2 linked regions of the Homo sapiens genome follow. The protein of the gene in region 1 interacts with the protein of each later gene in a pairwise test. Each region holds a gene or a part of one and is shown on either strand. Other genes may lie near its edges. The genes, in order: HEPH and GLRX3.

The links.
Region 2: the proteins of HEPH (region 1) and GLRX3 interact in binary tests that used the Homo sapiens proteins (3 or more experiments, as listed by UniProt).

The regions. Positions count from the first base shown.
Region 1 is NC_000023.11:66,155,996-66,173,737, forward strand, and holds the start of HEPH (hephaestin isoform a precursor), read left to right. Parts: upstream 1-8,251; 5' UTR 8,252-8,475; intron 8,476-11,754; exon of another isoform or gene 11,755-11,798; intron 11,799-14,537; coding exon of another isoform or gene 14,538-14,575; coding exon 14,576-14,742; intron 14,743-15,131; exon of another isoform or gene 15,132-15,273; intron 15,274-15,433; exon of another isoform or gene 15,434-15,509; intron 15,510-16,359; coding exon 16,360-16,604; intron 16,605-17,593; coding exon 17,594-17,742. UniProt on the Homo sapiens protein: Plasma membrane ferroxidase that mediates the extracellular conversion of ferrous/Fe(2+) iron into its ferric/Fe(3+) form.
Region 2 is NC_000010.11:130,168,751-130,184,588, forward strand, and holds the end of GLRX3 (glutaredoxin-3), read left to right. Parts: intron 1-682; coding exon 683-740; intron 741-2,833; coding exon 2,834-2,886; intron 2,887-6,116; coding exon 6,117-6,156; intron 6,157-6,246; coding exon 6,247-6,339; intron 6,340-10,591; coding exon 10,592-10,642; 3' UTR 10,643-10,922; downstream 10,923-15,838. UniProt on the Homo sapiens protein: Together with BOLA2, acts as a cytosolic iron-sulfur (Fe-S) cluster assembly factor that facilitates [2Fe-2S] cluster insertion into a subset of cytosolic proteins.

The sequences.
Region 1 (17,742 bases):
ACATATGCAGGATGTGCAGGTTTGTTACATTGGTACATGGTGGTCTGCTGCACAGATCATCCAATCACTTAGGTATTAAGCCCAGAATCCATTGACTATTCTTCCTGATGCTCTTCCTCCCCCTACCCGTCCCTACCTCCTCCAACAGGCCCCAGTATGTGTTGTTTCCCTCCCATGTGTCCATGTAACAGCATGTATTTTTTATCTTATAGTTTTAATAGGTTAGAAGTCTAAAATGGGTCTCACTGTGGTTACTTCTGGAGTATCCAGGGACAATCTATTTACTTGACTTTTCTAGCTTCTAGAGACCTAAATTCCCCACTTCATGGCCCTCTTCCTCTATCTTCAAAGCTAGAAACAGTGAATTGAGTACTTCTCATACTTCATTACTCCAACCTTCTCTCCTATTTCTCTCTTCTACTTTAAATAACCTTTGTAATGATACTGGACCTACCCAGACAATCCAGGATACTCTTTCCATTTTAAGAACAGCTGATTATTAATGTTAATTTCCCTTTGCTATGTAATATAACACATTCACATGTTCCAGGGATTGGAACATGAACATTTTTGGGAGAGGCGTTATTCTGTCTACCTCAACCCTCAATCCACTGTCTTTTTCACTTAACAGACTAACAAGTAGCCAGAGGAGTAGTAGGGCTAAGATCAATAGGTTTGGAAAGTAGGGTTGAGAAGGGACACAACTGCCACTACCTAGGATATACCTTTTATTGTGTTCACATTTCTTAGAAGAGCAGTTGTATTTTAAGAATGTCTGGGTGTTCTGTATATGAACAGAGTCAGGGTTTGAAATTGCACACAATTCATTTTTTCATAATGGTGAACTTTCCATAGAGTCTCTCATGCAAACACAGAGTCTGTAAGTTGTGATCAGACACTTATGCATGCCTTCTGGATGTCTGTGGGTTCTAATCCAAAAGCCTGAGTCACAGAACCTTGAAATATGAGAGCTGAAAGGGACCTCAAAGGCCAGCTAACACAAGGCTCTTATTTTCCATGTGAGAGGACTGAAGTCCAAAGAAGGGAAATAGCCTACTCCAGGTAACACATAGGTTTGTGGCAGAGAGGACTGGAATGAAGTCCTCACTATTGTGCCCAATTATATCAAACTAAGTTGTCATTTTGGAGAGGAAGCATGGGATTTTTTTAGTCCCTTAAATAATATCATGAACATGATCACTTCCTTCAACCAGTGATTAGGCCAGCCATCATAGAAGCATTTTCTAACACGGTTCTGTGGGGATGAAGAAAGTATTGGGCATGACAACAAAGAAAAATGGGGTTCGAAAGTCAGAACTGCATTGTAGGTGCCCAAGGAAAAAAAACACTCTCCAAAAGACAGCTACTTCTTTTGCTGTGAGAGGAGGGCGAGACGGCACTAACTGGCATTTTTGCTGAGGAGTTCTAAATTCACTAGAAAAAGGAACCAATGAACAGAAGGTAGAAGGCAGCATATATTTGGCTATTTAATATGGGAAAAGATAATCTAGAGTTGCCTTGAGAGATAATTGAGTGAGTTCTCAGTTATTACATGTATCCAAGCAAGAGTTCATATAGCCATTTGGAAATGATGCTGTGGATATATTTGGGAGTTTTCAAGTTAATTTTACCAAAATTTATTCCTTCAAATGAAAGGCTATGTGGCTGCATTTACCCATTTAATGTGTATCCATTCTATTAAATGGATAAATGAAGCCTTCTGAAGAGCCCTATGAGGCAACATAATTTGAAAGCAAATGACAACCATGCCTTCTGAGGCTTCATTTTGTTCACTATTCTTCTAACCCAAGGTAACCAAGGATAATTTGGGGGTTAGGTGCTTAGAGGAATAGGACTGGGCCAGTGGATGGATTGATTGGAAAAGTACAGGGGTTGGTAGTGACATACACACAGTCCTTTTAGAAACAAACTTGGTCAAACAATGGAACTGTCAGGTACAATCAAGTCAACCTTTTAACTAGAAAAGCCTCAAGTCATCTTCTGAAATGTGAAGTTAACACGCACTTTTTTTTCTAGTAGGATCTTGCTGACCTTGAAGGTCAGCTCTAAGGCTGCTGTCTTATTCTTTCACTAATCATTCATGTATTCATTCATCCAGCAAATATTTATTGAGCACCAACTCTGTATCAAGTGCTGTGCTAGGCATTGAGGCTACAGTAGGGAGCAAGAAAAATGTAATCCCTGACCCCACAGAGCTTCCATTATACGGTGAGGAGAGAGTTAAGCAAACAATTTCAACAAATTGTTGTTAGATGTACGGGGTGACTTGGGAGCACATCACAGGAGGACCTCACCCAGAAGCATAGAAAGTCAGGGAAAACCTCTTAGAGGAAGGGACTTCTAAACTGAGACCCAAAAAATGAGTGGGTGAATGAATAGGTGAAAAAGTGATTGAGGCAGATGAAACAACATATCAGAATCTGTTGGAGGGAAGAGAGAGCACCATGCACATTGGAAACTGACAAACTGACAGACCTCTGGCATGGGTGGGACGCATTGAGTGTGAGGAGAGGAAGGGCAAGCAGTGACCTAGAAAGATTAGGAAGGGCTGGGCCATAAAAATGCCATATAGGCCATGTTAAGAAGTTTGATCTTTATCCTAGTGAAATAATAAGGAATTAATTTTCTTAATGTAACAGATATGAGTTTCTTGAGAGAATAGAAATACAAAGAAGACAACAAAAGTGGCTTCATATTCACTTTCCAAGTGACCTTTTTTTAAAAACAAAAGTAACTAATATATAAGGCTTGAAAATCTAAACAGTTCAAAACGAAAAATGAAAGTCACGCTTCCCCCAACCAAGTTACTCTCCCCAAGGAAAACCACCATTAAGAATATTTTGTGTTATTTCCAGAAGAAATATTCATTGTCCCCTCATGTAAGTATGTATATATGTGTGTGTGTGTGTGTGTGTGTGTGGAGATATCTATATCTCTATGTATGACCAATCACAATATGCTCACTCTTTTGCACCTTGCTTTTTATTTAATGACATATATTGAAAATATTTTCATATGTGCATTCACACACACACACACACACACACATATACGAAATATTTCATCAGTTTGAGTGTCATCCTTACTAGAGAGTCTTACTAATATCATTATTATTCCAACTTTAGTCAATAAGGGAGGCATTGCTGGGGGATTTTAAGCAATAAGGATTTACAACCACTTTTGTGTTATGGGAAAAATAGCTTTGACTGTTATTTGAAGACCAGATTATGGGGGGTCAAGAGTGGAGTCATAAAGAATTATAAGGAGGCTATTACGCTGGTCCAATTAAAAGATTATGGTGACTTAGACCAAGTCCATGGCGGTGGAGATAGAGAGAAGTGGGTGCATTGAGAAAAAGATGTAAAATATAAATATGACAGGACATATCAATGAAATGGTTGTAGAGAGTGAGAGAGAAGAGAGTAATCTCAGATGACATTCAAGTCTCTGGCTTGGTATATAGGAATGAGAATGCTAATTATGTCATGCAGTCGTTCAGGAGGCTTATTCTGAATGATATTCACCCATTGAAAATATCCTCTCCCTACTCTAAAATGTTATATCACATTGTAGAGACCTCTATTCTCTTACTTACTATGTCTATTTATAGTAATGAAACATTTTATTTGTACATTGTTTTAGCCTTCTTACATGCTATGTACTCCTTAGTAGTGTGGCTGGAAGTAGGCAGGTATGAGGAAAATAGAGGAAGAAAAAAAAAGACTAACATTTACTGATCATTTACTATGTAACAGGTGTTACACAGGGCCATTTTTCAGACATTGCATTTTATTTTCACAGCCTGATTTTACAAATAACAAAATGGAGGCTCAGAGCACTCAAGTGACTTCCCCAAGATCATACATTTTAGGGAGAGACAGAGCTAAGATTCAAACCAAGTTTGTCCATGCCCAGGGCCCACCATCAGGAAGCCAAATGAGAAAGTATAGAAGAGTTGGGAGGAACAGCTGATGCCATGTATAGAGCTGCTCCAGGCAGGCAACAGAGAGGAAAGCATGTTAATTGCACAGGGAGAGGAGAGGAAGCTTCACCCAGGCAAGCAGAAAGATTCTTGGGCAAAGGGAGTGGGGAAATAGGTGTTGGGAGGACTCTCAGGGAGACGCCACATGAATGAGGTACCAGGAAGCTGAATAAAATATATTTTTGACCTAGGGCCAAAGAGTGAATACTCAAAGACCAGGTGAGTCTGGAGCTAAAGAATCAGTCTGCAGATGCAAGTAAGCTGGTGGTGGTGGGAGGTTGGGGGGTGAGCTTCAGAGCAAGCATCCCTTACAGCAGTGGTCCTCAAACCAGCAGTGGTCCTCAAACCAGCAGCAGCAGCATCCCCTGGGAACTTGCCAGAAATGCAAGTTCCTGGGCCTCACCCAAGACTTACTGAAGCAAAAACTCAATGCCTTAACAAATCCTATAAGGGATTCTGGTACATGTTCAAGTTTGAGGCCTACAGCCTTGGAGGACTAGGGAAAGCAGCAAGTGGAGTTCAAGAGCCAGAGTACAAGAACCAAACAGTGTACCCAGAGCAAGCCTAGGGCTGTCACACATCACAGCAATGCAGAGCAACCTTTCCAAAGCATAACAGAGTCTGCTGGTCAGAAGTGGTGGTGGGGAGTGGCTTCAGAGATGTGGTTTCTGGGGGACAACCCCCTCTTCCCTGCACCCCTCCACCTTTCCCCAGAGGTCTTCTTTTTAAGAAACTGCTAAGGGCAAGCTCATCAGAGGATCCTGAGGTAAAGGGGTTAGACTGTCTGTGCCAAGGCACTGCCCATGGCTTTTAATTTTCTCCTGGTACCTGATACTGTCACAAAATTTAACTGTGGAAAATATAGGAAGGAAAACAACATTTACTGGGGGTCTGAACATGCTGAGCACTGTGCTAAGGGTTCACACAAATGCCAGCTGATTTAATCCTCACAATATTTCAGTCATGGAAGTGTTATTATTCCTGTTCTGCAGATGAGGGACCAGAGGCTCGAAAAAGTTAAGTGATTTGCCCGAGGTCACATAGCTCAGAAAAAGGCAGCCAAGATACAATCCTTAGTCTTTCTGACTCCAAATGCCATGCTTCTCACCCTAGACCATGTTGACTCTAATGTGAAGGTCCCTGGGGTCCTCTCCTCTTTGTAGCCACCCCAGGGCCATGTGTTATTGATGGCCCATAGATGAGTAACCTGGAAATATTGGTTGAATGAATAAACGAAAAGATGTTCTAGTGACAGAGTTTAACACATGAAGGACCCTTAAGGATATTCTGGTCTTACGGTTTTCCAATCTGTTTTTAGTGTCCTAGACATTTCTTACTGGTGCTCCAGACACAATCACATTGTCTAGGAAACCAGTCATACCCAGTGGACAGGTTCCTCTGTCTCTTCACCCTTGCCCATTTCTATCTCCTTCCCTGCCTTACCTAGAACAAATCACTTTCATCTTCCATAAGTAGTGGGTGTTTACTAAGATTCTGTTTGGGGAAAGGGTTCTGCTGCCAAAATTAATTTTGAGAAACCCAAATCTAGACCACCTTTTTCATGTTATAGGTGAAGAAACTGAGTGATAGAAAGGCAAAAAGACTTGTCCAGGGTCACTGTGTGCTCTTTAGTAGCATAACTAGAATGTGAAGCCAGGATTCTTGAAACATTCTTCTTTTTTGACACAAGTTAATACAGTTTGTGTCCTAACGAGGAAATAATTATTTAGATTTCAACAATTATTTAGAATTGAAAAATTAAAAATTATAACTCTAATTTTTGCCTTTACTATGTTCCAGTTATTGTGCTAAATAGTTAATACGTATAGCCTTATTTAAGTTCTTATAACAGTCTTATAAAATAGGTAATATTATTATCTCCATTTGAAAACTGAGGTTTAGGGGGATTAAATTACTTTAATCATAGAATCAGGAAATGGCAGAGTTGGGATTTCAGTTCAGAATATCTGATTTCAGTTTTCATGCTCTTAACAGTGATGCCATATTGCAAATGTCTATATTGAAAAAAAAGTCTATTTAGCCTGCTGCTTGTTTTGTAAATTAATTTTTATTGGCACAATGATATACCTTGAGAGCTACAAAGACAAATTTGTGTAGTTATGGCAAACAGAAACTGTATGCTCTGGAAATAAATGATTTAGTAGCTAGCCCTTTATAGAAAAAATCTGCCAACCTCTGGTCTGTAGACACCAACTTTAAAATGTTTTTCAAGTGACCTCCAGGAGAAGGAACCAGAAATGTACCCCGGATTTGCAGAAAAGGTGGGTGCTGTTTGTACTCTCAGTGAAATTGGTGAATGAATAATACAAACCTGGAAACCTGGCCTACCTGGCCTCCTGCAGTCTTCACTGTGTTGATTCAAGTCTATTATGACCTGTTCTTGTTGTCTTTCATGAGTCAGAGCAGAGGCCTTATCCCTTCCCCTCCCTGTCATAAATGCCTTAGAGCTTGGACTTGGATCTCAGCTTAATCAGTTTTGTCTCCACTTCCCCTTTCTTGCTTCAAGGTTCACATGTGTGCGAGGCAGATAATTCTAGGGGCTGCCATGGCTTGGCTAAGCTTCCCTTGACCACTGAGCATTTCTAAGGGAGTTGAGGCTGGTGGCTCCTCCTTCCTTCCTACTGGTGCTTCCACCTGCCTTGGTCTGAGTTGCAGTCCATGGGGCAGCGCCTAAGTGTCTGAGCACACTTAAGAATCTCTAGTGGTTTATGACCCAGACTTTGCCCTACCACCTCAGTCTTCTGAATGTTCTCTTCCCTGGACCCTGCTCCAGACACTTTAAATTCAGAAGAGGAAAATGTGCCCAGCCTGCCTGGAGAAAAGTGTCTGCTCCTAGCCAAGATCTCCTCATCACAAAGTAAGAATATCAGGTGGTGGAACCCCCATCATACCTGTCCCCTTCCTATACCTGGGTCTGTTGGGTAGATGCAGTCCTTTTTAGAGAGGCATAGTATTCTCAGACCTGTCGCCACAAATTGCTCCCCACTCATTCTTTCCCTATACTTTGTGTCTTTGAAACCTCTTTATCTTCTATGTTTAATATCTAGACTATACTTTCTTCATGGAATTCTAGATGTGTAAATTTACAGGGCTGGGAGGGTCCATATCTAGTTTAAGACCCTCATTGTAGAAATAGAAAGAGGCCCAGAGAAGAGAAGGGAGTGGGCCAAATCCACAAAATCCACATAGCTGATTACTCCTAGAGCAAGTGGGGCGAGAACCTTGGTCACTTGACTCAGGACAGTGACTTTTCACTCTTCTCTCTTTCCACCAGGAATGGGAATGACCTTTGACTTTAAACAAATCCAGACTCCAGTTTTACCCTGAATTGTTGGGGGAACATTTTGTTTTTTTTTTCTTTTTAGTATTTTCAATTCTTCCATGTCTTAGTTTTTAGGGTGTTGACCTGTGTTAATCCAGGCTATCTTCTAGCTATATCTGGTTTCCTCAGGTGGAAAATGTTAAATATAGTTAATATAAAATTTCACTCTAGAATCTGCTAGAAATGACGGAGGCAAAGTTAATGTATATATAAAAAAATCCACCAGTGACTGGTGGCCAGTAGGCTTTCAATAATTGTGAAGTCCCTTCTACCCCCTTGAAAGTACTGTGTTTCTCCCCTAAGCAGCACATTGTGTGTGGTGGTTTCATGGTTAAAAGTTTAGACAGACCCAGCAAATCTCTCTTCTCTTTTACTTCCTAAGTGTGTGACCTTGGACAAGTTACCTTCCCTCTCAGAGCTGAATTTTCCTCAGTTGTAAAATAGAGAGAATTAGAGTATTCATCTCACAGGATAATTGTGAGACTTAAATAAGAGAATGCATGTAAAATGGTTAACATAGGGCTTAGAATGTAGAAAAAAAGTCCTTTGTTTTATTGCCAATTTTATTTTTACTTATGACTAAGCAGCCATGACCTCAGAATAATAGTCAGGGCTGACAATTGTGCTTCAGAGCAAGAAGGGGAAGAGGTGGTGAGATGGAGGCTCTTTCAATTTCTACCTCATTTCTTAAATGGAGCTGTTGAAATCTACCCATGAGCTTTGGCTGGCCACACTGACAGTGTTCTCCTCTCAGCAAAGACCAATTAGCAAGTCCTGATAACAGAAGTACAACCCACCCCCTTGTAATTCCTCCTGAGATCCTAACCAGGATTTGTAAAACACCCGGATATGGGTAAAGAACCATCCCGGGTTTTGTATCAAACCAGGCCCCAGAGGAACAGGACATTCCAGTAGTTTTGTTTCTGGAAAAGAGGGCACCCAGCCCTTCCCCCTCCCTCATCCTCCCATCCCAGTAAACCCTGCCAAATTGGAATCCTGGACTTAATTTAGGAGAAAGGCCCTGTAACCAAGATACTGACTGAACATGGCTGGCGGACTCAGGCTGGGGTCTGCAGTGCAGCATTAATGGGCCGCTGACATGAATATGGAGTAGTTTTCTCTAGCAAAGGTAAGCTTTCTTTTCTCTCTTTTCAAACTCTACCTCACCTGCCTTCCTGTGCAAAAACGTTTATTTAGCTGGGTTTAAGGGAGTCCTGGCCACTAGGAGAAAAAGTCAGTGGCCAAAAAGTTGGAGGAGGTTTGGCTGATGTGCAGGAAAGTTAAAGGAGACAATAGGCTCCTTTTGTTCCTCTCGCCAAAATAGCCAGGACTACACTGGCTTGTCTGTTTCAGGGCCAATCCTGGAGCCATACAGAATAGTTCATTTTCCTGTCGAAATAGCTTGCTCATCTTCTGTTTCACAGGTTGAGGAATTTATTGAGGTGATGGATCTGAGGATTATGTAAGTGGGAACTCAGTTACTTAAAAATAACCATGTTTGGTTTCATATTTTGAGACCAGATTGGCACAGAGTAAGCCAATAAATGATAGCTTAACTAAGCTAAACATCTGAATTTGAGTAGTCTTAGTTTCTACATAGCAAAAATCTTTTAGAAATCATTGGTTCAAATTCTGGCTATTTTTAACAACTGGCTGCGTGACTTTGAGCAAATCCTTGCACCTCTCTGGTATCAGTTTTTTATACATCAAATGAGGGTGATTGAAAAAGATGGTTTCTAAAGGTTTCATGCATGTGTGAATCTATAACACGTTCAGTTTTTCATTACTCAGCATCTATTATATGACAAGCAATCCTTTTGCTAGGGACTCAAATATCCATGGTTTTATTTGGGCCTCAAGACAATCCTGTGAAAAAAATATCATCCCATTTTTTGGATGAGATGACTAAGGCTAAAATAATTTATTGAAAGGTCACATAGCTATCACAGACAAGAGATAGGATTTGAATCAAGGTCTTTAACTTCAAATCGGTATGTTTTCTATCACAGAGTTAAGAAAGCAGAGGACCAAAAGGTGAATTTTGATGGAGGGTTTATTAGGAAGGCTGCTGAGAGATTGAAGACAGGGCCCCAAAGATGGCTCAGCATTCCTTTATTCAGTTGAGTAATCCTTTGTTTAGGATGAGCCTGTCTAGCCCAAAGTAGTATAACTGAGAAAGGGAGATGGAGGGAGAGAAAAGAGCATTGTCGCAATAAAGGAACAGTTTGCAAATTCTAGGGAACACAGCAATGCAAATTGTTATGAATAATAGGGACCAGACCCAGGTGACACTGGGATGGCAGGAAGGTAAGGTAAAGGTAAGGGAGGCTTAACTTTATATTGGCTGATCTTCTCTCCAGGTTGGCACAAGGTTTCAGTATATCTTAACTAAACTATCCAAATAGCCTAGAATTTTTCTTTCTTTTTTCCTTCCTTTGAGTGCCTATTCCTTCTGCCTTCCTTTTTATTTTGTATTTTTTACTTTTTTCCAGGATTCTTTCTCAACTTACTTATTTCATTTCTCCTTTTATTTCTTCCTGTTCTTTTTCCTCATCAGTCTGGTTCTTCTCTATGGGCTTAGCTGAGAAAAAAAATATCCTTGCCCAAGTGAAAAGCTTACACAGGGCTTTCACATCTTTCATATTATTTGACCTTTATTACAAACTAATGAGGGGCCCAAAGTAGAGACAATCCTCATTTAAGACATGAGGAAACTGAGGCTCAGGAAGTTAGGGACTTGTTCAAGGTTATATAACCAATAAATGATGAATCCAGAGCTAGAACTTACTATTTTCTGGTGCCTGAACGCTTTCCACTGTACCATGAAATATCTAAGTGGTTATATTTTATTTTATTTATTTATTTTTTGAGACCCGTGTTTCACTCTTGTTGCCCAGGCTGGAGTGCAATGGTGCGATTTCGGCTCACCACAACCTCCGCCTCCCAGGTTCAAGCGATTCTCCTGCCTCAGCCTCCCGAGTAGCTGGGATTACAGGCATGCACCACCATGCCCAGCTAATTTTTTGTATTTTTAATAGAGATAGGGTTTCTCCATATTGGTCAGGCTGGTCTTGAACTCCCGATCTCAGGTGATCCACCCACCTCGGCCTCCCAAAGTGCTGGCATTACAGGCGTGAGCCACTGTGCCTGGCCTAACATCTAAGTGGTTATAAAGGATTTTATGGGTTTTTCATTTTTTCTGCTCTTTTAGTATATGATAAAACCAAATTAAACAGCAGCAATAACAATGACAAATTCAAATTTGAGGAGGATAGAAAGGATGTCAATAATTAGAAGGAAGAAAAATACTTATCAGGTGCCTACTAAGTCCCAGCTGCTGCAAAAATTTATCTTATTTAGATATAGAGTAAAACAGTACTTAAACCTAAGTTTGTCTGACTCAAAAGTTCTAGTTCTTTACATTATACCATGTTGTTTCCAAGAAGAGAGTTCAGCTTGGGCTGTGTGCATTTTCATACCTATGTTTATATTCCTGTATGCTTAGAATGTGTTACCATATATGGGAATTTATGAGTGTGCACATATTTATTGCTATTCATAAAATGGAAAATCTTTATGGCCCTGGCAAGTTTCATTTCCAAACTATTTCCTTACTTGCAATAGTAATAGCCACTAATACCTTTTGATCACTTACATGTGCCCTTAAAGTACTTACAGATCTTAATTAAGTTAATCCCCACAAAACTCTATGAGGTAGCTAATAGTATTAATACCATTTGAAAAATAAAGACACTGTGGCTAAATAAATGAAGAAGTTTCCCAAGTCATACAGCTAGGAAAAATGGAGCCAAGATTCACTTAGGTAGCCTGATACCAAAGCCTGTGCCCTGGATGCAAAATCGAGTAAGTATTCCTTATCTCTCAAGATCTTGAGAATTATATAAGATGGCAGATATGAAAAACACATTGTAATCTGGAAACTGCTAGGGGTATGTTAGGTGGCATTTCCCACCACTCCCCAGATTCTATTGTTTAAGCCATTTGGATCATAAGTCACCACTGTTGAATGCTTGTTCACTGTATGCTGATGGCCTGTACTAGTCTCTCCCAGGAATATTTTCAGTTTTATCATGTGTTTCTCCAGTTGTGGAGCTCTTGCCTGGGACAGTTTTCTGTCTAGGTAAATGAGTTCAAGGCACAACTGCTTTGTTGACACCTCTCTGAGAAAGAAGATTGAAAGGGGTCCATGTTGCATTCAGACTTGGAATGAACCGAGGACACTCCCTCCCTGTTGAGGATTCCAAGGCATGACTATTTGTGTGACCATATATAGAGCTATGTGTAGGTGTATGTGAGTACGCCTGTGTTTCATCAGTGAATGTAAGTATTGGCAGCATGTGAAAGCTGGAAGGACTCTTTGAGAGCTCATTACATACCACATTTTTATGGTTCTGCACTTAGATTATCACACTTCTGTGACTCCCTCAAAAGGTAAGAACTATATAGTCCAGCTTTATATAGTCAATTATTTTATAGATGGGAAAAATGAGGTGAAGAAACTTGCCTAAGTTCACCCTGAACAAGTATTAGAACTTGAACCAGACCCAACTGATGGAAAAATGTATACTTGTGCTTCTTTATGTCACTTTAACAATAGCTGTTATTGCCCATCTACTTGGCCTCCATCGCCATGTCGTAATAGATACACAGCGACCTCTAAAAAATGACATTCTCTCTCAAGGAGTGTGTAGTCCAATCTGGGAAATGAAGACAGTTCATGAGGCAGGTCATGAGATGGAAAGGTAACAATAATACAGAGTCTGACTTAATCTAATTGGGTGCTATAGACAGTAAGTAGCCCTGCAGAGGACAGTGATATGAAGAGGCTAAAGGTGGCCTTCTGGAGCAGTTAGTATTCAAATTAACCCTTGGAGTAGGAATATAGAAAGTATGATGGATGTGAGACTGTAGAGATGAATTAACAAACTGCAGCCAGGAGGGAAAAGGAAGAGGAAGGCAACCAGTAGTTACTACTGCCTACTATGTTCCAAACATGGATTATACTTGTCCGTTTCATGTAAGCTTTCTGATTTATTTCTCCAGGGCTGATATTATTATACCCATTTTACAGATGAGAAAACTGGTTCTGAGTGGTTAAGTAATCCCCAAGGCTACACAGCTGGTCAGTGGGAGAGCCAGGTTTTGGAAAAAAGGACCCCAAAACAGATCCTCTCTTACATCAAGAGCTTTCTGCCAAATATAATATGGAATCTAGGGATTAACACTTGGGTCACTGCTGCGTATGGAGAGGACTGAGAGTTTGTGAAGTAGTCTATAAGTTTATTTCTTAAAAAGGGTAAATATCTGGGGATTTTCTATCCATATGTGAATCTGTGCATATATTTGATTCTCAATTTTTTATTAACAATGCCTATTTCATATGCTTGGGTTGAAGATTTAGCGAAATAATTTATATAAAGCACTGGACATGGTGCTACTATGTAATGATCTGTCAGTGAATAGTAGCCATTATCATCATTATCATTAATATAATCTATTAGTTATATCTCTGCCTACATGAGTATGTATGTCTGTTTGTAAAGTGATTATAACTGCATGTAATTGCTTGTTTCAGAATGTATGTGTTTTTTCATAGATATGGCTGTTGCTATAGGCATATGTATGTTCTCTGTGTATATACATGTGAGTGTGCAAGTATATTTTTGTGGAAGGTAGTACAGCATGGTGATTATGCTGGAGCCACACTTCCTGGGCTCAAATCCCAACTCTACCGATTTTTATCTAGATGGCCTTGGGCAAACTGCTTTACACCTCTCTTCTGAAGTTTCTCCATTGTAATATGGGGATAATAATGGTGTCTACTTCATAGGGTGGTTGTGAGGAATAAATGATTTAATCTGTGTAAAACATTTGGAACAGATGTACCATGCACATACGATAAATATAGCTTTATTATTATTATTCTGAAGTTGACTAAGATTTTATATAACAGAGTGATTTTATGTGTAAATGGAAGTGTGTGCATCTCTGCTTTTAGGTAAGACTACATGTACCTGTGTGTGCAAGTTTATGTATTTATGTGATGTTGTCTGTGTTTCTGTGTTTGACTGTAACTGTGTATGGTATCACTGAGTGCTTCGTCCTAGTCCCAGGAAGTCTAACGTCCTGTCTTATGCATTGAAGTGAGAGGTTAGAATCTTGGGTCTGATTCTGACTCAGGATTAGACCTATGAAATGAATTTATGAATAGCCTTGGGAATCAGCAGACAACATTTCTTCTGAGAAGTTCAAAATACTTCCCTCACATACTGTCATTTATTTTTGGTTCATTGTTAACTTTTGAAGTATAATACACATAAAGTGCACAAATCGTGTTTATAGCTCAATGTATTTTCACAAACTGAACACGCTTTTACAACCAGCATGTAGATCACAAAACAGAGCATTACTTAGAAGCCCTCCTCTTCCCTTCCCAGTCACAGAATCCTACTTCAAGGCAAACATTATCCTTACTTCTACCAGCATAGATTACATTGGCCTGATTTTGTACTGTATTTAAATGAAATCATACAATATGTACTCTTTTGTGTCTATTTTTTTAAACATTACATTTGTCATAATCATTCATATTGTTGTGTGTAGTTGTAGTTTGTTCATTATTATTGCTATAAAGAATTTCATTTTATGAATAAAATGCAATGTATTCATTCATTATAGTGTTCACGAACATTTTGACTGTTTCTATTTTGGGTTTATGAATATTCTAGTAAATATTTTTTAGTAAATTCTCACTTGTTGTTAAGTACAATTTATAGAGGATAGGAAGTGGCAACAACAATGAGTGTTCCCCTTTTGCCTATGGGAAAAGAGAGGCAAAGGGAGAATTAGTGTTAGTGGCCCAATAAGGCTTCTGGTGCCTGTTTCCTGATTCTTGGGACAGAGCACATTCTTCCTGCTACACCATTGAAAAAACTGGATCCAGATCTCTCTTCTGAAGGAACTAGTAATACATGATTAGCAGCACGGGTGACTTTTTAACTATGCCCTTCAAAATCCAATCATTGAAAACTTATTGAATTAAAAGGAATCAGGTAAGTTAAAGAAACTGGGCTAAATGGGTTTTGCTTTCTCAGTCACTCAACCTGGCTCTTGCCTCTTCAGTTTTCTGGACACGTAGAAAGCCCCTTTGTTCTCTTTCTTCTACACCAGCAGTTTTTATTTGCCTGTTTCCCAGAGTAATGTGGGCCATGGAGTCAGGCCACCTCCTCTGGGCTCTGCTGTTCATGCAGTCCTTGTGGCCTCAACTGACTGATGGAGCCACTCGAGTCTACTACCTGGGCATCCGGGATGTGCAGTGGAACTATGCTCCCAAGGGAAGAAATGTCATCACGAACCAGCCTCTGGACAGTGACATGTAGGTTTAATTTCTTGTGGTATTTGAGGGGAAGTTATGGGAGCACTCTTGAGGTCAGGAAGTAGCCTCTTGAGGCCCCTTTCCCAGGGTGTGGTAGCAGCCAGCTCCTGATTGCTCCGAGCTGTACATACTCAGTGGCAGATTTCCTGGGAAGAAGGCTAGTTGAGTCAGAAGCCAGCATTTCATCTGGAGTTTGCCGTAACATTTTTAGAGTCCTAAAGAGAATTCCATATTTGCTGTTTTCTAATCTCATACCCACAATGCTTACTTATTTAATAACAACTGTTTGACTTTAAAAAAGAATAATGAAATATATACAGTGTTTGTAAGATGTATGGGTGGGAGCTATGCTTCTATAGTTTGGTGAAGCTACTGTATATTTATTTCAGATATGTGAAAATGTGAAAAAAGAAAGTAAGCCTTAGAATCAAGGAATTAATGGTAATAATTCTCACTTATGTAATACTCTGTGACACAGACCATACTAGAAATTTACATACTTTGTCTCAACTCTCACAAAAACTCTAGAAGGTAAGTATGTGTGTAGTTATTTTATAGATGAGAAAACTGAGGCTCAGAGAGGTCAAGTGACTTATCCAAGTCCTATAACTAGTAAATGAAAAAGATAGGATTTGAACCTCGATAATGAGAATGTAAACTAATACTCTTCTCACCACTCTGTCCCTCATAGATCCCACAGGATTAACCTTTCCTGATCTTAGAAAATAGCAAGTGCTCCACAAATATCTGTTAAAGAATAAATGAATGTACGAAAAACTATTTTGTGACCATGACTCATTTTTTTCTCTCCAAAGCTTTGGAGTTTTCCAAAGTTGATTGTAATATCTCTGAGTTCTCTGAGAAGAATTAGAGTATAGTAGGAATAACAACTCTGTCTTTTTTGACACAAAATATTCATCTAGTTTCAGAGTCAGAGTCCTTGTATTAATTTTTTTGAGGGAATAAATTCATTATCCTTCATCCCTAATACTTTGTAGTAATATTCCACATTTATTGAACTTTTACTATTTGCCACTGTCCTAAGCTCTTCGTGTATTTGAATTTTTTTTTTTTAGTCACCAGTAAAAGCTGTCTGAGTTAGGAACTATGATTATTTCCATTCCATTTTACAGATGGGCAAATTGTGTTCAGAGAAGTTAAGTAACTTGTTCAACATCCCACTAATTTGGAAGTGGCAGAGTCAGCAATCAATCCAAGTGGCTTGGCTCCAAAGCTTGGAGTTATAAGCACTATGCCCTAAGGCCTCCCATATGTATCAGAATGATGCTAAGTCAGGCTACATTGACGAGGAGTCGATCACTTAAGGAGTCAGTCCACAGTTGGTTGTCTCTTTGTTACTGCATATTGTGTCAAGCTATGTGAAATTGCCTTTTATGTGGGTTTAAAGTGGTCAAATATGAGCAATTTCATATGCTGATATTTGAAATTTTTAATAGTTAAATCTAAAACTTTCATGTTTTGATCAGTACAATGCCATTTCCTCTTGTTTTGTCCTAAACAAAGATAGTCACTTTTTGGTCAGTATCCTCTGGAAAAGGAACCTCTCAAGGCTTGAAGATGGGGGGCAAAATTATGACTCTTTTTCTTCTTTCCCAGAGTGGCTTCCAGCTTCTTAAAGTCTGACAAGAACCGGATAGGGGGAACCTACAAGAAGACCATCTATAAAGAATACAAGGATGACTCATACACAGATGAAGTGGCCCAGCCTGCCTGGTTGGGCTTCCTGGGGCCAGTGTTGCAGGCTGAAGTGGGGGATGTCATTCTTATTCACCTGAAGAATTTTGCCACTCGTCCCTATACCATCCACCCTCATGGTGTCTTCTACGAGAAGGACTCTGAAGGTAAACCATTCCACCGTTTCTTTCCCCCATGCCCAACAAATATCACTTTTCCTTTATTGCCAGGTGAAGGAGAAGAACTGGTAGTGAAGATTTTCTTTTCTTCCTATTTATCTGAGGTGGCAAAGACTCTCCTCAGAGTAAACAAGGGTGGGCACTGGTATCAGTTCTGCCATTCATATACTGTGTGACTTGGACGAGTCATTGTCTCTCTCTGGGTCTCAGATTCCTTCTCAGAAATGTGAAGACACAGTCTACCTCTTAACACAAGGAACTATTTGAATGGCATCTCCATAGAATATTTGAATATTCTATGAAAAGAAAAGAGAATGCTATAAATGTGAAGGATTGTCATCCTAGTGTCACAGTCTTCTGAAAGTTCCATTTTGTTTTTCCCTAAAGGGGAGTTCAGCTTATTTATCTCTATCTCCCTTATTCCTGGCCCAGTAATTTATAATACTGACAACAGTGAGTAAGAGGAATAGAAAGGGAAGTCAGAAGACTCTGGCTGGGCCACTAAATCCCTGTATGATCCTGGACAAGTTACTTTTCCTTAGTTTTCTCTTCCATACAATGGAGAAGTGAACCAATTAATCATTAAGTTGACTGCAGACTGAAATTCTGTGATTGCCTGCTTTTTTATTTTAAGTGAGTGTTTGAAGGGAGGGAATTCTGTCTTCTTGCTTCTATGCCACCAGCTTTATGCTATGGCATTACCAGATCAGGCCAAGCTGTACTTTTCCTAGCCACAGAACTTTTCCAGTGGCTACAAGCTTTCCACCCATTGTTAATGTGAGGACTGGATTTTTTAGGTTAAATGTTACCTAAATCTGTGCTCTCCTTAGGTTGTGAGGAATACTATGTAGGTCATTAGCATGCTACATTTTATAAGACTGGACCTAGGGTTCTACATGTCAGCTCTGTCTTAATTTATGTATTTGCCACGGTCCCTCACTTATTCTGGGCCTGTGCATGTACAATTTCATTTCTAGGTTCCCTATACCCAGATGGCTCCTCTGGGCCACTGAAAGCTGATGACTCTGTTCCCCCGGGGGGCAGCCATATCTACAACTGGACCATTCCAGAAGGCCATGCACCCACCGATGCTGACCCAGCGTGCCTCACCTGGATCTACCATTCT
Region 2 (15,838 bases), on another chromosome or scaffold:
AGGAGATTTTTGAGCTGTGAATTGGGAGAACATGGTGGCGTGACCCCATGGGGCTTAGGTTCTTTAGTGACCCGTTGTCCCAGCACTGACTTTTCTTGAGATTTGTGACTAAACTTGTGGCTGTATACAGATAATTAAAATTCCTGACAGCATGTTAGATTATGATGTTTGAAAGACTATATAAAATATAAAACATGTTAAGATGAGAGAATTTGATTTTAGTATCTGGCATTAGTTGATGTTCTGAGGTTTAACGCTGTCACCCTGCAGTCCGACCTTGTGAGCTTTACACGTGTACAGTGGTATGCAGCATCATGATGGAAGATGGTGCACACAAGATCTAGTTCTGGAAGTTTTGGATGGGCTTAATATATAGGCCCCTTATTGAACAATTCCTTACTGAATTGGTTATTATTATTATTTTTTTATTACTGTGAGTTGATGGGCTTAAATTGCAACTTGAAGGAACATTCGTTGCCTTAAAAGCCATATTGTGTTTTACAGTGGCTTAGGGAGAGAATGAAATCAAGGAAAATGTCAACGCATTTGCTTGTTTAATACCACTCAAAGCTGTGAACTGTCATCCTGCCATCCCTCAAATATGCATGTTACTCACGAAGCGGAGGAAAAGTGGTGTTGCATAATTGAGCTGAGCCGTTTTATATCAATTTTCTCTCTTTAGGCTCAAAGTGCTGACAAATAAAGCTTCTGTGATGCTCTTTATGAAAGGAAACAAACAGGTAAAGAACTCAAAAATGGTTTTATTTGTAATTTCTTTTGATGTTAACATCTGCAACAAGGGGACAGTTAAATCTTTTTCCTAGCTTTAGCTAATGAAGCTGTAGCGATATCAGGAAGTTATCCACGCCTTAATTGGTGCTTACGGAGATCAAACAAAGTAATCTACATTTTGCTTGACTTTATCATCAACATCTCAGTGGGGTGCATTTCTTTCTGCTGCCAAACTTTGTCAGCTAATGTGGTCAACACTGTTAACACTTTACTGGTTGTATGAGTTGTTATGTCATTATCCTTTGTTTGAGTTTGTGGACTGCTGAAGTGTGCAGCTGAGTCAGTGGACTTCCTGAATGCAGGGAACCTGGTCGTGCTTGGGTTTGCACCCCTAGATCGTCCTTTTGTGACAGTGGAGGAGCAAACCCTGGCTGTAGCAGGTGTGCTCTGTGTGTTTGATGAATGAGTGAAATGGTCAGCAATTCTCATTTTTAATGGGATGGTTCTTACAGCTTTTTGATGTAAGTACATATTGATTATGCGTCATTTTGAATATCAAGTTTGATAGATTACTTCCACCGATAGTTTGAGCAGAACTAATTTTCTTTCAGATTGAGATCAGAGTGGTAATTTCCAGAAACCAGCCATACACATTTATATCATATTTTGTAATTTTCATAGCAATTGAACCTCTACTTAATTCTCAATCAGTTGTTGAAGTAGGCAGGGTTGGACAGACTTTGGCCTGTTTTAGAGATAAAGAAACCAAAGTTTTGAAAGGTGAGGCTGTTGGAATAAAGAAACTGCCTCACTTGTTAGCAAGATGCACCGGGCAAGTGACATGGAGAACCACTTTGCTCATTGGGAAAGGGACACAATACTTCACAGGGCAGACTCTGGTTGCCATAACTAGTGTATAAGTTAACATAACTAGTATAATGAAGCTAATTAGTTAACATAACTGGTTAATATAATTAGGTAATAATGAAAGTAACAGTAACAAAGAAAATGTTAATATAAATTTCAGCATGTTGGAAACATTAGGTTAGGGCCTAAATTCTTTGATTTTGGTTCAGTGTATTGAAACAATAGAGGAAGTTAATAATTCCTAGTAATGATAAAGTGACATTTTTTCTTATTCTCGGTAATGGTTTAAGTGGATATTTATTCTCAAAACTATTTTTTTCTGGAAACCTAGAAAGTATTAATACATTTTGGAAACAATGTTATTGGGGCTATTAAAATGTTGACATGGTACCATATCTTTTCCACAAGATTGCTGGAATTTGGAGTCCTGTGGCATGAAAAAAGCTTAAGATTTTCATAAACTCAAAAAAGTGTTAGTATTCTGTAATGTAAAAATAAATGAGGCTGGATGCGGTAGCTCATGCCTGTAATCCCAGCACTTTGGGAGGCCAAGGCAGGTCCGAGGTCAAGAGATCGAGACCATCCTGGCTAACATGGTGAAACCCCATCTTTACTAAAAATACAAAAAGTTTGCTGGGCGTGGTGGCGCATGCCTATAGTCCCAGCTACTCGGGAGGCTGAGGCAGGAGAATCGCTTGAACCTGGGAGGTGGACATTGCAGTGAGCCGAGATCACACTCCAGCCTGGGGACAGAGTGAGACTCTGTCTCAAAAAATAAATAAATAAATAAATAAATAAATAAAATAAAAAGAAAAATGGGAGTCAGAATCCAGTTGGAAATGGGAAAATAATTGTCATAATCATTGCAAAAAGGCTAAGTGAGTTAAGATCATTTTGCATGAGTGAATTAAACAATGAACTCAAATCTCTGTAGAAAATCTCGGTTTCACTTAGAGGAACTTTTTGACCACAGAGAATATAAACTGTTGGAACACATGTCATCTCAAGTGGTTACAAACCAAAGGAAAAGGAAGTCTGTGGGTCACGTGTGCCTGGGTTGATGTGTAGATGGGTTCGTACTTGAAGAGGGGATGAGCAGAAGCTCTGGGAGCTGAGTGAAAGTAGTGGCAGCTATGCTGGACAAGTGCTGTGCTGGTTGACAAGAGTATTAGGTACAACCATGCTGCTTGGGTCATACAAAAATTGTAATCTTTGCAAATTTTTTTTCATTTAGGAAGCAAAATGTGGATTCAGCAAACAAATTCTGGAAATACTAAATAGTACTGGGTATGTAAATGTTGTTTTCAAATGGTGTATTAAAAAAATTCCAACCTGGCCAGGCGTAGTGGCTCACGTCTATAATCCTAGCACTTTGGGAGGCTAAGACAGGAATATTGCTTGAGCCCAGGTGTTCGAGACCAGCCTGGACAACATAGTGAGACCCCATCGCCACAAAAAATAAAAAAATTAGCCAGGCATGGTCACATACATCTATGGTCCTAGCTACTTGAGAGACTGAGGTGGGAGGATCACTGGAGTCTTGGAAGGTGAGGCTGTAGTGAGCCGTGATTGCACCACTGCACTCAGCCTGGGTGACAGAGCAAGACCCTGTCTCAAAAAAAAGAAAAAAATATTTCAACTTTTCAGTTCTGCCACTGATACTTTTCAGTTGTAATGTCTATATCCATACATATCTGTATCTTTCTTTATTTTTTGCTGTATTGTTTTGTGAATGCCTTAACTTAGATCAAAATAGTATTTTCTGGCCAGTGTCAACCTATTAGTAACATAAAGGAGGTCTTTAGGCCACCTTTGGAATAACTATTTGTCTACTTTCCCAGAGGAAAATGTATAACTGAGTCCTCACCATGCATAAAGATATTTCAGGGGAATATATTATAGGTAGTTTTTAATTTTTCTCAAATATCCTAGTTGCTAAACAGTACAGAAAGCTGAGGGGCACATATTAAGGTCCATTACCTGGATCTGAGAGGTAGCACAAGTTAAATTGCAGTGCTCCTAGTTTTGATGTGCTCAGTGGTGAAGCTGTCAGGTAAGAACATTGCCATTGATTTTTGTGGTTAAAAACAAAAGCACTTATTTGGAGATATACAGCACATGTTCTATAGGGTTTGTCAGATATTTTTGTTTATTTCTCATTTCATGATTGTATCTTTTAAAAATCATGTATTCTAACTGTAGCTTCAAATAAATTACTTTCAAGTAATCTTTGATATACTTCAAAGATCTATTGAAAATAGTTAAATAGTACAGGTTGAATACAATTTCAGGGACATAAAAAGAATATAGGGCCAGGCACAGTGGCTCACACCTGTAATCCCAGCACTTTGGGAGGCTGAGGTGAGTGGATCACTTGAGGTCAGGAGTTCGAGACCAGCTTGGCGAACATGGTGAAACCCCGCCTCTACTAAAAATACAAAAATTAGCCGGGTGCGGTGGCGCACGCCTATAATCCCAGCCACTCAGGAGGCTGAGGCCTGGAGAATCACTTGAGCCCAGGAGGTGGAGGTTTCAGTGAGCTGAAACCACGCCACTGCACTCCAACCTGGGTGACAGTGAGACTCTGTCTCAAAAAAAAGATGTGGTTGTCGTCTTTAGATTACTATGACATTTTATAGAAGCAAGTATAGTCAGTTTATTGTAATTGTAACTTCAAGCCTGTTCCTTTCTTCACCCCTGCCCTGGGCCATACAGTGGGGGCTGGCTTGTTTTTGGTCATTTTTGATTTTCCCCTTTCTTTGTCGACCCTCTGCTGCGGGTCCACAGTGAGACACACACAGTCCATCCCTCTCTAGCAGTACCAGGTTCCTCAGGTGTCTTCTGAGCCGACACACTGGGCCTGACTCAGCTCGTGTCTTTGGTGGAACATCTTGGTAACTTGGCTTTCTGTCCCATATCTGTCTAATCTCCATTGTATTGAAAGCACCCTGTTGTCGCAGAGAGCAGGAGGATGCTTTGGGAGAGCATGACCTCCCAGCTCTGGACTTGCTAAGCGTGATTGGCCCTAGGATGAGTGAGGCCATCCAGGACCTCAGCTTCGCTTAACACGAGCAGACCATGCTCTTGCTGGGCGCCAAATGTATGTGGAGAAAACTCCTTTTTACTTTTTCTCATTTCTTATCTTTTCCTTTAGTAGCCAAAATACACATGCATGAGTGGTTGAGAACCAAGTGTATATTGAGGTTTGAAAGGTACCCTTTATGAATAACTTTTAGGAAGTATACTGGCTGTTAGGACTCCACATACATACACTTGGGCCCAGTGCTTCCTGGATCCTTTATGAATAGTTGTATAACTCATTGTTTTTATCACAGTATTAAGAGATCTGCCACCTTTAGTTCAACTTGAACAAAGACTTACATTGGGGTTTTTAAAAAGCATTAGGTTTACATTGGGGTCTTTTTTTGTTCTTCTTTCAAACATTCCTTTTTTGGTAATTGCTTCTGATTTATCCCGTCATTTAGTTTTTTTGACTGTTCCCTGTACCATAGACAGTTTCCTTGGGAACTTGTTTACTAAATAAACAAGATTTCCCTATGATGGTTTCAGTTTTATGGAAAGTCCAGTTTTTTTTACATGTAGCATTTTCTTTGGCCACCTTTGGGAATTGCACCTGTACCCTCAGGCACCCTGCAAGGATTTAGGCATACATGCTTGCTAATACCTGACCACCTAACGGTGAAATCGCTCTGAGTGGATACAGTTGGATATTCATGCAGTGATTTTTCATTTTTTGTACAAGTAATGTTCATTGTATGGTATAAAGCCACAAAGCTTTCATTGGCCTTTTGTACATTAAAAACAGCACCCTCTCTGAAATAAGTTTAAGTGTGGAAAGCATGTCTCTTGCTAAGGTGGAGGGAGCTGGCAGCGTGGTTGTTATCCGGCTGCTGAGCCCTCCAGCCTCCGTCCACGAGCACTACTACATCCTGCTGCACGGGCAGCTTCCAGGAGGTTAAGAAGCAGCAGCCTGGGGTGGGTTAGACATTAGAAGTGGGTAAGAGTGTTCAGTTAATGAAGGCTCGTGCAGATGGGGGTGTGGGTCTGATCCAGGGGTTGGCAAGTTGCAGCTGGCTGCCCATTTTTGTAAATAAAGTTATATTGGCACATAGCCACATCCCTTCATTTATACATTGTCTGTGGCTGCTTTTATGCTGACAGTTGCAGCAGAGAGCAGAACTGAGCAGTTGCAGCAGAGACTGTCTGGCCTGTAAAGCCTGAAGTGTTTAGTGTCTGACTCTTTAAGAAGAAGTTTGCCCACCCCTGGTCTAACCCAATATTGTCCGGAGAAAAATCCAGATAAAGTCATATGTTGGAATGACTAATTCTGTGTAGTACCAGACAGATTAAGAAGTAAAATCATTTCCATTGGTCTGTAGTACATTTTGTTAGCAGTGAAACGGTTTTCTTGATTATTTTAAAAACATCAAATGCATAGAGGTTTTACACTTTGATTTAACTGTATTTCCAGTTAAAATGTCTTCTCTTTTTTGCAGTGTTGAATATGAAACATTCGATATATTGGAGGATGAAGAAGTAAGTTCTGTGTTTGATGTTTCACCCTTGTCTTAGCTTTAATCTTAAGGGCCTGATAGGATGGTTTCAGGATTCCTGTTGTTTCTTTAGGTTCGGCAAGGATTAAAAGCTTACTCAAATTGGCCAACATACCCTCAGCTGTATGTGAAAGGGGAGCTGGTGGGAGGATTGGATATTGTGAAGGTAAGGCCAGTTCTTCTGCTGTTCTAAAGAACGGAAAAGATTTTGGTATGTTTAAAAATGATTTCATATTGAATGGAAACTTGAGAGTTGTTTTTGACTCCTGTTTCCAGCCTGACTCTCAGACATTTCTAGACCAGTATCACCGTTTCTGTGTGCATGACTACCCTGCCATTCTCACTGTCCCCACGTGGCAGCCTGTTCTTACTTTCACACCTGAGCTAACCATTGCATCTCCTTTCTGTGGGGTGATCTTCCCTGTCACTCAGGGTCCTTGTTAGATCCTGCTTCAGCTCCCAGACAACAAATTGTTTTTTCTTGCCTTACTCATCTGCCCTTGGGTGCATGGAGTGACAGCAGTGTGAGGCCTGTGGCCCGGTGCTGCCCATCCTTGCCACAGAGGCTGAGGATCACTGCCCCTGGTCCCCCGAAAGAAAAAATGTAGGTCCTTTTTGGTTTTGAGATGCTTGGAAATCTGTTATCTGTTAGATTGTGTTTTAGATAAGACACCATTTCTTATGTATCTTGAGTCCTTCCTGATGCTTTGTGTATTTTAGGAGTTCAGTAAATGGTTGTTGGATGGATAAGTGACTTTACTTCTTGATTGAGTTTTAAATGGACGTTACTTTGCATGTATTTAATGTCTAGAATTCAGGGCAGGCCCACCAACTAACACCTGTGTGCTCTGTAGCTCTTTGATTAGCCCAAAACAATAAACAGAAGCTGTAGCTTTAATATCTACACACAGACCCCACTGCACCCCAGGCCCACTGTGGGCATGGTGGCATCGAGGAGGGTGGTAGCTGGTTGGGTATAGAGAGGAGCTAGACAGGAATGCTGGGCAGGAATGCCAGGGTCTGCTCAGGGGCATGAACAAAACTGCCCCGAAAAGTGGGTTGCTGACTGCCCTCAGGCCTTCCTCTTGCCTCAATCCATGAGAGAATTTTCTGAGGTCAGATCTTCGACTTTTTATGTGGAAAACAAATAGCAAGTAGTACTACTTCTAGTTATGTTGTAAAATAAAAGTTTTTTTTTTTTTTTTACATTTTTTTTTGAGAGAGTTTCGCTCTTGTTCCCCACTGGAGTGCAATGGTGCAATCTCGGCTCACTGCAGCCTCTGCCTCCCAGGTTCATGTGATTCTCCTGCCTCAGCCTCCTGAGTAGCTGGGATTACAGGCACCCGCCACCACGCCCCACTAATTTTTGTATTTTTAGTAGAGATGGGGTTTCACCATGTTGGCCAGGCTGGTCTTGAACTGCTGACCCCAGGTGATCCGCCCACCTTGGCCTCCCAAAGTGCTGGGATTACAGGCATGAGTCACCGCGCCTGGCCAAAATAAAAGTTTTTAACACGTGCTTTTGTAAAGTGAAGCACTAGCCTACCACTGAAATGACATCAGCACTTTGGACCAATATGTTTTATAAAAACAAAGCTTGAGTTCCATTGATGCAGAGGCTCTTTTTGTCCTTTGGTGGCCTCTGTGTAGGTTTTGTTTCCTGTGGAGTTCCAGGTTTGATATCATACTTCTTAAACAAGCCAGTGAGACATTTTTCCTGGGGAATGGTCTCACTCCTGGAGGAAAAAATTTTTAAGACTATTGCTCTTGAATAGCCCTGAAGCAGCAGAAACAGATCTGCATTTGTTTCTTCCCTCCCTCCCTCCTTCCCTCCCTCCCTCCCTCCCTCTTTCTCTCTCTCTCTCTCTCTATATATATATATATAGTCTTATTTTTGTAAGACACAAAGAATACTCAAACCCCAAATACTCTTGAGCCTGTTCTTGTCTGAATGTTTTATAGCCTGTACCTTAGCCATTGGTAACTCTTGGGAAGATACAATCAATAAATCTCATTTAATTCTAAAGCTAAGCTGCGTGGGTAACTTCTTTTTAGTTATATAACAGAGTGTTATATGATTTTTTATGTTCACCTGCTAAGAACATATACGTTTGAAATGTGTGATATTGTTAACGTTTTTCCTTGAGAAGATATATGGAATAGATCTTACGATCCCATTTTGATCTGTTTCTTGCAGAATGCAGTTCTTCATGTTCAGTTCAATTAAAAGATGTTTGAAATGGTCTAATCTGGCTGGCCTCTTTGGAGCAATGAGCGTTTGTTTTGTTGAATGAGGGACTGAATGATGATTTAGTTACTCAGCTAATCTAGTGTCCTGAGAAAATTGTGAGTTGTTATTGCCTCTGAAGAGTAAACGGTTCACTACTGCTGTTCCAGAATGTTTGGACTTAAGACAGTTTGTTGAGAGAGATAGAAGATTTGGTTAGGTTTAGACTTTCCACCTGCCGGCTCGCATTAACAGCAGTGAGGGTGGCGAGGACTGCCTTATTTGGCGCGCTCCCAATGTTCCAGGCACACTGCTTTGGTGCTTTAAGAGGCTGCTTCACGTAATCTCCCAAGCAGCCTCAGAGAGCAGAATTCTTCTTAGTCAGTAGATGAGGAAACAGAGACATAGAGAGGTCAGGTGAATTGTCCACCATCCCATAACTAGTAAGCCATTGAGTCCAGATTCCACCTGAGGGCCACCTGCCCTTGCCCACTCAGCTGCGTGGTCCTCTCCGTGCCTTCTTGAGTGTGTGCTCAGAAAAGTCCTGCTGGGTCCCTTGGAGGGGCAGGGTGTCTGCTTGTTGAGTAGGTAGAAGAAGATCCCTAGACATGACTGAAAGCCGTCTGGGTTTTGTGTGACAGCATCATTCCTATTTGAATTTCATCCAGAGGAGGTCATACGGATTTTAATGGTTTTATTGATTGATGTTTATGCTGTTCAGTGATAACCTGAAATGTTATATCATACTAAATGTTTCTTTAAACCAGAAAATCTTATTTATCATGTCTGTCCTTTCAAGCTTGGTGTCTATAATCCAGATTTTAAATCTGAAAAACAGGCACAAGGAGCATGGCGCCTGTACTGCAGTTCCAGTCAACCTGGTGGTAGCTCTTTTGATGCCATGTCTGTTTCTGAATTGTTAGGTCTTTTTAATGGTTTCTGCCTTTCCCTCTTACTGGTACTCTAGCTTTTCCTGAGGCAGAGATGTGTTGCCAGGTTGGGTTTCAATAGCAAAGCCTGATTCCTCTCTGTGAGTGGAAGAACGGGAGGGGAACAAGCATCATATTTGAGTAGACTTTTAACGTCACACTGCTTTTTTTTTCTTCCTTTTTTTCGAGACAGAGTCTCACTCTGTCACCCAGGCTGGAGTGCAGTGGTGCAATCTTGGCTCTTGGGTCACTGCACCCTCCACCTTCTGGGTTCAAGCAATTTTCATGCCTCAGCCTCCTAAGTAGCTAGAATTACAGGCACATGCCACCATGCCCACCTGGCTAATTTTTTTTTTAATAGAGATGGGTTTTGTCATGTTGGCCAGGCTGGGCTTGAACTCCTGACTTCAAGTGATCTGCCCCCTTGGCCTCTTAAAGTGCTGGGATTATAGGTGTGAGCCACTGCGCCCAGCCACATTACTTCATTCTTCAACCTTGAAAGTCACTTGATTTATTTTCCTTATTTATTGCTACAGTTTAAATAGGGGCTTCATTGGCTCCAGTTGCTGCGTTTCCTAATACTAAACAATCTGTTGGTTTTAGGATACCTTAACTTCATTTATTTATTTATGAATGAATGAATGAGATGGAGTCTCGCTCTAGCCCAGGCTGGAGTGCAATGGCACGATCTTGGCTCACTACAATCTCCACCTCCCGGGTTCAGGAGATTCTCCCTGTCTCAGCCTCCTGAGTAGCTGGGATTACAGGTGCCCGCCACCATGCCCAACTGATTTTTGTATTTTTAGTAGAGACGGGGTTTCACCATGTTGGCCAGGCTGTTCTGCAACTCCTGACCTCAGGTGATCTGCCCTCCTCGGCCTCCCAACGTGCTGGGATTACAGGCATGAGCCACTGCACCCAGCCTTATTTATTTATTTTTTAAGAGACAGATTTCACCATGTTGGTCAGGCTGGTCTTGAACTCCTGGCCTCAAGTGATCTGCCCACCTCGGCCTCCCAAAGTGCTGGGATTACATTTGTGAGCCACCACACCTGGCCAAGAATACCTTGTTAAATTTTTTAACCTGATAGTGTATTCAGGGTTTATGGCTCATTTAGTTTGAGAGTGTTAAGAGACTGGAGTTTTAATCCAATAGGTGTTTCTTTTGGTTCTCAGATATACATACAAGCTGTGATTGTTTAGATGTTTCCATCTTTTTATATATGCATATACATATTATTATTGTTGTTTTTTATTTTTAGGAACTGAAAGAAAATGGTGAATTGCTGCCTATACTGAGAGGAGAAAATTAATAAATCTTAAACTTGGTGCCCAACTATTGTAAGAAATATTTAATTACATTGGGAGCAGTTCATGATTTAGTCCTCAGAAATGGACTAGGAATAGAAAATTCCTGCTTTCTCAGTTACATGTTTTGTGTATTTCACAATGTCGTGCTAAATAAATGTATGTTACATTTTTTTCCCACCAAAAATAGAATGCAATAAACATCTTCAAATTATTAACAATAATTGTATGAAAAAAGTGTATCTTTACAGCAGTATTAAACATACAGCTACTATAATTAACCCACCTTAAATCTCTTTTTCTTAGTACATGAGTATCTTCTAGCAGTTAAGAAAGGCAGTCTTCAGAAAATGGAGAACTGTGGCGGAATGCAGTACACAACAGTATTTAGGACAACTCCTTTGCCAACACAATGGCTCCCCTCGCTGGTGAAAGATCTCTTTACAGCTTAGGAAAAACAACGGAAATTAGTTTCTGATGTCATTGCTGAGCTCGGCACTGGTTACATTGCAGAGGCAGTGTAGGATGTCTGCAGGTTTAGAGACTCATTTCACAAGGCACCAGTAGTGAATTATCAAGAAACATTTAAGAGGAAAATGATTTCTCATTGAATATGGTACAACAAGCACTTTTTTCATAAGGTCTAGAAGAATGGGTAGTCATGACAAAGAATGGAAAAGTATTGTCATTTGTTGTAAGCATCACTACTTTTTTTTTTTTTTCAGACGGGGTCTGGCTCTGTCACCCAGGCTGGAGTGCAGTGGCACGATTATGGCTCATTGCAGCCTCGACTTCTCGGGGCCAAGCGATCCTCCTGCCTCAGCCTTCTGAGTAGCTGGGACCACAGGCGTGCACCACCATGCCCACCTAATTTTTTATTTCTTGTAGAGATGAGGTCTCCTGCCTCAGCCTCCCAAAGTGCTGGAATTTACAGGTAGGACCACCACACTTGGTCCACTTACTTATAATAAACATTGATTTGGTCGTTCAGGTTCCTTTGGTCCTCCTATTGAGAACAGTTTGAAGTCCATGAAAATTTTAACAATATTTTTGATCCTGAATCTAACATATTTGAAAAATAGTTGCTCCACTAGGCTTCCACAGTGCAGGCTTCAAATGGGATGGCTAAATTCACCTCATGGTTCTTAGTTTTTTTTGTACTTGTGGCACATTCTCTTCATATATTACCCCACCCTGTTTGTTTGGGCAGTTAAGATGCTGGTACTGTCTGGTGGCGATAAGGAAAGGGAAACAGAAGTCAGTAATTCAGACAAGAATAAACAGGATGAAATGCATCTATTCCTAGGTAAGATTAGCCCACCACCTCCACACTGCTGCTGTCTCTTCAGCTCAGGCTGTTTTTCTCTGTTTTGATTGTGTAAAGAGTAGAGTGCTGATTTGTGTGTTACAGAGGGTGGTCTGTACAAGTCATAAAGCTCGACATGGCCTTGCTTCCTGCTAGGTGTTAGGACACCCATGATGGTGGAGTCTCTTGGCATTCTGTGTAATTAGATAAGGCTGTTTATAGCATTGGTCCATGAGAACTTCCTTGTTTCTATTTAAAATGAAAATCATTGTATAAGTAAAACTTCTTAAATGTAGATAGAAATAGAATTTTTACTGAAATTTTATGAAGCCATTGGCCGCAGGGATGTGTGTCATGGAGGAGGGCTCCATACTTTTTTGGTATACTTATCTCAAACTTAATTCATTTGCATACTGCTTTTTCTCTAAGTGCCAACTGTCCTAGTATATTTTCTAAGTCAACTTTTACTTTCACTTTATCCTAAGCAAGAATATCTTTGGCATCACAGACTCAGTAAGCCTGTTTTTTTCTAATGCACATACAAATAAATAAAATGCACAACTTTTAACATAAATGGCTGCCTCCAATTTGGGAAATACTGTTCTGGCCAGAGGCCGTTGCTCTGATAATGTCATGTGGTTAGTGCATTTTAGGAAGACCTCCTTTCCCTTTGGTTGACTCCTGCAGGACATAAGATATCAGTGACGTTATCCTTTGTTGAGCCATCCTGGTTTGAGTCAGGATGAGTGTTGAGAGTTTTTGGGGAGTTGCCCCTGTGTCCTATATTATTTTATCCTCTTAAAGTCTGATGGTCTTTGGCTCCACTGACTCCAGGTAAGTTGGGGTGACAGTGCAGCATATTTCTATTTTCTAGTTGTTTCTGGCCAGACATGGGGAAGGTCAAGACATCTTGTTCATGCAAACGGATTGATGGCCATTCCTAATCTGATTTTATTAGTGTATTTTAGGAAGTAAAGTAAGATTCTTGAGCCCAGCTGAACTTCCCCTATTGAATTTTCTAACAAAAAGAGAGTTTGCGTATGGGTTTATAATTGAGCCTGCTCTTGTAGAAATGTTTTATCAGAATTGAAATCCTCTCTGATCCCCAAATTCTAGAGACAAAGTTGTTTTCTGAATTTGAGAAATCTGTTCAGTTCACAAGGAAAGGTGACAATGTGTCATTTGGATGTTGTCCCACACGTGAGGCCTCGTTGGGTGCTTGTGGTGGGAGGGACCCTCCAGGCAGGCTTTGTATGGAGGGTTTTCATGTCTGGACACATTTCTGTTCCGAGAAGCACTGCTGCGTTTTTGGGAGCGTGGACCCTGGCCAGAGCCTGTGGCCAGCTCTGCCTGCCCTCCCTTTCTTGGCCTGCTCTTTTGAGTATGTAGTGGGGCTTTGTGTGGCATCCTGCCAGGTTAAAGCTGCATGGTGCTTAGGATAGAGCTGGTGCTGTGGGGAGGCTCTTGATGATGGGGGCTGCCATCTATTTGCCTGTTAACTCTTAGAAACCAAACCTCAAATGTCAGAATTTCCTTTCTAGAAGAGGCTGGTTGAATAGGAACCAGAAAGGCCCTCATACAGGCAGGGCTGTTCACTCCTCTTGACTTGCGTGTTTGTGCCTTCCTTGTAGGAAGGCTTCTTAGGGAATTGTTATCTGTTTAGGGGAAATAAGCCTGCAGGAATGAACTTTTTTTTAAAATAAAAACTCTTGATCAAAAATGGAAAGAAAAAAACCAGTGAAACAGGCTAGGTAGTTTGTGGAATTCTCCTTTGCAGGTGAGGGGAGAAAGCAGCTATCTCAAGGGCACAGCTACAGATTGGGAGCTGGGGCTTCCATCCAGGGTCTGGGACACCCAAACCTTAGGCTTGCCCCTCCCGGGAGGCCTCCCCCTCAGAGCTATGTGGGATGCAGTTGCCTTTTTACCTGTGATGAGAAACTGGTGAATTGCCAGGATTCTGGCTCTGGCTTCAGTCTGCCCCTTTCCGGGGATTAGAGGGCATTAACCCTACTTCCTACAGCCAAGCAGCTCTTCCTCATGACTCTACTTTCTAACTCCGGGGGTTGACTGATTGATTTGAAGACCGCCTTGTTGATGAATGTGTTGAAACTTGCTATCATAATGTAAATGCTCCTTAATAAAATAACAGGACCTGGTGGGTTCAGTTGCCTTGCCCACGTGTGACTTACATGTTTTTGCCTTTTTTTGTTGAACACTGAGCCTTGCAGAACCATCAGGAAGTCCACCTTGGTCCCACTGGATTGATCATTAAGAAGGAAGGAAAAAAGTTATTTGCCATTTCCGTTCTTTACAAAAATGTCTTAAGTCTGCTGAGGAGTAGACTAAAAAATAGCATGTTTTTATAATTAGAAAGCCTCATTTTAATAACTTAAAAATGTTTAATCTCTGAAACAACTGTAATACATTTTAAGCGCTTGGTAATCATTATCTGCCTTATTGGAAAGAATTATACAAATAAGACCTATCTTGACAGTCAAAAGTTACAAGCTTAAGATTGCAATATGAAACATGATTTCTGGTTTAGTTTTTAAAGTAAAATCAGCTTTCTTTTCCTTTGTTTTTTGAGACAGGGTCTCCTCTGTCACCCAGGCTGGAGTGCAGTGGTGCAGTCATGGCTCACGGCATCCTTGACCTCCCAGGCTCAAGATCCTCCCCCGTCAGCCTCCTCAGTAGCTGAGATGACAGGCATGTGCCACCATGCCCGGCTGTGTTTTGATTTTTTTTTTTTGTAGAGATGAAGTCTCACTATGTTGCCCAGGCTGGTCTCAATCTCCTGGGCTCAAGTGATCCTCCCACCTCAGCCTCCCAAAGTGTTGGGATTACAGGCCCTAGCCACCATGCCTGACCTAAGATCAGTTTTCTTAAATTTGACAGTTGCTACTTTTCAAAATTCAAACCTTTCTAAATAAAAGTAAGTTGATTATTTGCAGATGAATTCTTGTTTTATACACATTTCAGATGTTGAGTTTGAGGACCTAGACCCTTCCCTTTTTGTCTAGTCACATTTCCTCACGGCCGTCCACTGATCGTTGAATCAGCGTAAATATGGACAGTTTCTCTTGAGTCTTTGGGTCTTCATTTCTGAAGGCTCCTGTGTCACGTAAGACTTAAATAAATCTTACGCTTTTCTCTTGTTAATCTCTTTTGTTATAGGAGTGTCGGCTGTGCCCCTTGTGATGGGTGAGGAAAGGTATCCACCTTTCTGAATCAGACACAAGCTGCAGTAGCTTCCTGATGCCTCATTCACCAGGATGGGTAACTTTAAAGACAAGTTTTATAACTGGCATCCCATCTGGTTTCAGAGTCTTGGGGGCTTTTTTCATACAGCTTTGTCTGATATTTAGAGACATTCAGATTCAGAAGCCATGAGTTCAGTTAGCTCATGGGCCGGGCACGTGCACTGACTCACTGGCTGCAGCAGAACACGTTGAGGGAGTCTTGGTGCACTTAGGTCACTGTAAGGTTCTAGGGCTGGGAGCTGGGATTTGAACCAGGATCTGTCAGCGCAGCCCCAGTGCTGTGCTTGAAGCCTCGTGCCACACTGGCTTTGAGGTAGCACGCTGCAAGTTAGTGAGTGGAGTTGCCCAAGTCTGGGGCTTCTGAAATGACCTGGTATTTTTATGTTCCTGTTAGAAATGGTGTGGCTTTCACAAATTAAGTGCCAGGCTGGGCACAATGGCTCGTGCTTGTAATCCCAGCACTTTGGGAGGCGGAGGCAGGCGGGTTGCTTGAGCTCCGGAGCTTGAGACCAGCCTGAGCAACATGGCGAAACCTCATATCTACAAAAAATAAAAAATTAACTGGTCATGGTGGTGTGCACCTGTAGTCCCAGCTACTTGGGGAGCTGAGATGGGAGGATTGCTTGAGCCCAGGA